Linked DNA regions of Homo sapiens: region 1 is linked to region 2. A link means that fine-mapping ties the variant in region 2 to the expression of a gene that starts in the linked region. Tissue or cell type: blood mononuclear cells. Region 2 holds a variant in brackets; the other region holds the start of a gene. All regions are shown on one strand. Distances are from middle to middle.

Region 1 (2,762 bases), 25 kb after region 2:
TTCAAAATTACACAATTTAGTGTTTTCAAAGGCTTAAGTGGAGCTTTTATGCTGGATTTACGTGATGAATGGAATAAACTGATTCAAACATTAGAAGGGACATGCTTAAAAAAAAAACCTACCACAATTAAAATTTTGGAACATGATCTTAAATTCCTGTGAAAGGGCATGAAGAGTTTGTGTGTGTGTTTCGTTTTTTGAGACGAAGTCTTGCTCTGTCGCCCAGGCTGGAGTGCAGTGGCACAATTTCTGCTCGCTGCAACCTCTGCCTCCCAGGTTCAAGTGATTCTCCTGCCTCAGCCCCCCGAGTAGCTGGGATTACAGGCACCTGTCACCACGCCCGGCTAATTTTTGTATTTTTAGTGGAGACGGGTTTTCACCATGTTGGCCAGGCTGCTCTCAAAACTCATGACCTCGTGATCCCCCCCACCCCCCGTGCCTCGGCCTCCCAAAGTGCTGGATTTTACAGGCATGAGCCACCTTGCGGTATGTTAATTTGGGGGAAAACAACAGGGACAATTGGGGAAAAATTTTGTTTTGTGAATTACCAATGGAAGAACTAATCACAGGCTAAGCAACATGCTTACGGTTGAATTTGCCAAATTTAAGATGTACATACTATGATGTAGCATGTGTATTTATTTGCACATGCAGTGGGACAATTCCTACAGTTGTCTCACACTGCTGTAGATTATTAGCAACTCCATCCTGCAGTGACATCGCTTTTCTGAATTCTATAGCACTTTTCACCTAATCCTCTGATTAGTCTGTATTTTCCGGTTCAAGTGTATCTTGTTTTTCGTTTGCTCCACTTCCCTTGTCCCTTGCACCCCACTAACAGGAAAATTCCTGGTGGTCAAAATGGCTCTAATTCTTTTTGTATACCCGGGCTTAATTCAATAGGAATTGGGATAACTTTTCAATATTTAAAAAATTTGCACTGTGAAAACGTATATTTTAAACTCTTTCTACAACTTTTCATATTTGAAGAACATATGGCAGGAAGTGGATGCTTTTGATGAAGCCAAAAGAATTTTTTTAACTTCTATTGCTAATTAACAAGGAGGTGGCCGCGGGAGCTCTTTTTTTTTTTTTTTTTTTGAGACGGAGTTTCACTCTTGTTGCCCAGGCTGGAGTGCAGTGGCGCGATCTCAGCTCACCGCAACCTCCGCCTCCCGAGTTCAAGCGATTCTCCTGCCTCAGACTCCCGAGTAGCTGGGATTACAGGCATGCACCACCAGGCCCCGCTAATTTTGTACTTATAGTAGAGACGGGGTTTCTCAGGCTGGTTCGAACTTCCGACCTCATGTGATCCACCCGCCTCCGCCACCCAAAGTGCTGGGATTACAGGCGTGAGCCACCGCGCCCGGGCCAGGCGGGAGCTTTAGGTCTTATTTTATCTTGCTCTGCCCCCGACATCGTGGTGAGAGGGGAACCTTCCTCATATCTGGGCGCTGGCCTCTCCGGGCTTGGGAGAGAGGAACTCAGTGATCATAGAGCTGGCCGAATGCCGGGGTAGAGGGGACCGGAAGTTGTTTTTTTCGCCCCCGCCCAGCGGCCGGATCGCATCTCAGCTGGTTGGCTTTGGTTAGAGCTCCCGTCAGACTTTAGTTCGGCCCTAGGATTTGGTAGCCCCGAAGTGTGGGCTCTCTCCAGTACCAGACTCATTTCAGTACCAGCCTTTGGGAAGTCGTGTGAATACCTCGGTCTCTTAGCCACAGGGATAGAATGGCGGCCTGACGGAGCCGCGGCGCCGGCGAAGTCGCTGAGGCGCGAGCTGGAACCCCCAGACCAGCTCAAACGGGAGCCAAAACTCGAAGCTTGGAAGAATTAGCAGGAAATGGCGGATGAGGCGTTGTTTTTGCTTCTCCATAACGAGATGGTGTCTGGAGTGTACAAGTCCGCGGAGCAGGGGGAGGTGGTGAGTGCTGCCACACAACCTTGAGGTCCTTTTGCGGTGACACACCTTGTTTCCCCTCAGTGCTTTCCTTCAACCCCTGTCCCATCGCCACCCGACGCCTCCCGAGGTGTACACAAAATGGTCCACCTCCAGGTGTCCTAAACCCTAGAACCTGTCAGTTGTCTCCTTTGAACCGTCATCTTTCATCGTTTTCTCTTTCGTATCTTCTTCTATTTGATTCTCTTTTGTCTATTCCCGTACGTTTGTCTTGCACGCCACAGATTTTGGTACTTTTAGTGTTGTCCCTGCCATTATTTACGAGAGGGTTAACTGCAGAGCCTACTTAGTTTTGCTGGCACTTCCAGCACTTGAGCCATGCACTGGACAGACCTGTGCCAACCTGAGAAGCCTGTCCCTCCTTCCTCATTCCTAATGCTCAGTACAACTCCACACAACTTGAGACCTGAAGCCTAATGAAGGTTGAGTTTGCAAAGGAAAGTTTGCAGGCGTTAGGATAATTAGGGAACATAATTTAAATTAATTATTTCAGAAAGTATTTATTTAGTGCCCTTATGTCAGAGCGATTTCTAGGTGCCAGGGATATAGTAGTGAATGAAACAATGGCCCCATCCTTGTAGAGATTTTTTTTTAATCTAATTTAATCCGAAATGTGATAGTATGTAGCGGTTACTTCTAATATGTGGGAGTCCTTATTCAATCATTGTGGGCCTGTCACTGCTGACACTGCTAGATAAATTAAATAAAATAATACTCCTGCCTCACAGTATTTAGGGAATAGTGATTTAATGAATAGTTAACACTGAGTATTGGCTGGTAGAATCATGGAGTTGTAACGGATTTT
Region 2 (2,762 bases):
TGTCTATTTTACAGTTTTTCTTTTATACAAAACAATGAAAAAAAATTTTTTTGAGACAGGGTCTTGCTCTGTCACCCAGGCTGGAGTGCAGTGGTGCGATCATGGCTCACTGCTGCCTTGACCTTCTGGGCTCAAGCGATCCTCCTACCTCAGCCTCCCAGGTAGCTGGGACTTTAGGTGCGTACCACCACACCCGGCAAATTTTTTTTTTTTTTTTTTTGAGACAGGGTTTCACTATGTTGCCCACGCTAGTCTTGACTCCTGAACTCAAGCGATCAGCTTGACTTGGACTCCCAAAGTGCTGAGATTACAGACATGAGCCACCACACCCAACCGAAACATTTTTTAAAGCAAAAACATACACGATTTAAAATAAAATATCCAGAAATAACTGCTTCAAACTTGCTTTTAAGGTCAGTTTCAAAATTGCTTGAGAATAGGCTTGAGAGTAGGCCAGGCCAGGTGGCTCATGCCTGTAATCCCAGCACTTTGGGAGGCTGAGGTGGGCAGAACACTTGAGATCAGGAGTTCAAGACCAGCCTGGCCAACGTGGTGAAACCCCCGTCTCTACTAAAAACATAAAAATTAGCCAGGAGTGGGCTGGGCGCGGTGGCTCACGCCTGTAATCCCAGCACTTTGGTAGGCTGAGATGGGTGGATCATGAGGTCAGGAGTTCAAGACCAGTCTGGCCAAGATGGTGAAACCCTCTCTATTAAAACTTCAAAAATTAGCCAGGCGCAGTGGCAGGCGCTTGTAATCCCAGCTACTTGGGAGGCTGAGCCAGGAGAATCACTTGAAACTGGGCGGCAGAGTTTGCAGTGAGCCAAGATCGCGCCACTGCACTCCAGACTGGGCGACAGAGTGAGATTCCGTCTCAAAAAAAAAAAAAATTGGCCAGGAGTGGTGGCGGAAATCCCAGCTACTTGAGAGGCTGAGGCAGGAGAATCGTTTGAACCCAGGAGGCAGAGGTTGCAGTGAGCCAAGATCTTGCCATTGCACTCCAGCCCGAGAGACAGAGCAAAACTCTGTCTCCGCCCCCGCAAAAAAAATTGCCGGAGAGTAAAGGTGAAGCTCACATAATATTGGAGAAAATTTGGTTAAGCTCTGAGAGTAATTAATTAATTTAGGCAAGATGAGAAAAGTGCTCTTATTGAAAGACATTATAAAGTGATGGATTTAATATACTCAAAGACATAAGAAAACATAATTGACTCTGGGTGGTTGGGGGAAGGGAAATGAACACACTAAATAAAATTAGAGGATACTTTAATTTTTTATCACATTTTATTTATTTCACTAGATGATAAGGTTCATAAGTATTTGCTATAATTTTGGCTATTTTTTCTTGTCTGAAATATTACATAGTAAAATGTTTTAACTGGATGACAAGTAGAGATAAAGTGAATTCTGTTTGAAAAAATTACATACTAATGAATTACGACTTTGCTATGGTCTGAATATCTGTGT[T/C]TCTCCCAAATTCATATGTTGAAATTCCAACCCCCAACATGATGGTATTAGAAGGTGAATTACAAATTGTATTGACTTATTTTGCTTATTCTTTGTCATATTTAAACTTATAACTGAGAAGACATTAATTTGCAAAGAAAATACATTTTTAACAAGATACATGAAATTTTCAGTGAACTTGGAGTTAACTAGGAAAAATGCATAGTTCTAGCCAAATCTACTACAAGCAAAACTTCAAGAGTAGTAGCGGCACTGAGGCTACTGTGCACTTGAAATGTACACCCAGCTTGTGTAACATTTTCCAAGAATACCTCTCATCAAAACTTTTGCTTCTAAAGAGTTTTCTATATATATATATATATATATATATATATATATATATATTTTTTTTTTTTTTTTTTTTTTTTTTTTTTTTTTTTTTTTTGAGACGGAGTCTCTCTGTCACCCAGGCTGGAGTGCAGTGGCGCGATCTCGGCTCACTGCAGGCTCCGCCCCCCGGGGTTCACGCCATTCTCCTGCCTCAGCCTCCCGAGTAGCTGGGACTACAGGCGCCCGCTACCTCGCCCGGCTAATTTTTTGTATTTTTAGTAGAGACGGGGTTTCACTGTGTTAGCCAGGATGGTCTCGATCTCCTGACCTCGTGATCCACCCGCCTCGGCCTCCCAAAGTGCTGGGATAACAGGCGTGAGCCACCGCGCCCGGCCGAGTTTTCTATATTTTTAATTGGAGGGTTTTTTTTGTTGTTGTTGTTTTGTTTTGTTTTTTTTGAGATGTGGTCTCTGTCGCTCAGGCTGGAGTGCAGTGGCATGATCTTGGCTCACTGCAACCTCCACCTCCTGGGTCAAGTGTTTCTACCACCTCAGCCTCCCAAGTAGCTGGGGCTACAGGCTTGCACCACTACACCTGGCTAATTTTTCTATTTTTAGTAGAGATGGGGTTTCACCATGTGGGCCAGGCTGGTCTCAAACTCCTGACCTGAGGTGATCTGCCCGCCTTGTCCTCCCAAAGTGCTGGGATTAAATGGCAGATTCCATATGTGAGGAGGTGTGTACACATATATATGTAAACAAAATAAAATAACAGTGGTTTGAATATTCATTGAGGGGAAACACGTGCAATTCTATGACATAAATTAATTAACTAGAAAATTTATATAAAGAAATTATACAGAATTCAGAATAGAGAGACATAAAAATGTGAAAGATAGATTCAAAAATACTTAGAACAGGTCGGGCACGGTGGCTCACGCCTGTAATCCCAGCACTTTGGGAGGCCGAGGTGGGCGGATCACGAGG

Evidence for each region. PIP is the estimated chance that this variant, and not a neighbour inherited with it, causes the effect.
Region 1: it holds the start of TRAPPC6B, and the variant in region 2 is fine-mapped to the expression of TRAPPC6B in blood mononuclear cells (TOPMed, PIP above 0.99).

The regions. Positions count from the first base shown.
Region 1 is chr14:39,169,174-39,171,935 of GRCh38, reverse strand. TRAPPC6B (trafficking protein particle complex subunit 6B) reads left to right here and starts at 1,603. Exons shown (of 6, transcript NM_001079537.2): 1 at 1,603-1,921. The coding sequence starts at 1,841. RefSeq lists enhancers at 376-965, 1,747-1,796, 1,556-2,145.
Region 2 is chr14:39,193,861-39,196,622 of GRCh38, reverse strand. No RefSeq gene overlaps it. Among named protein-coding and RNA genes, the nearest start is that of PNN-AS1, 19 kb to the right of the region's middle. The variant T/C (reference allele first, on the strand shown) is at 1,468.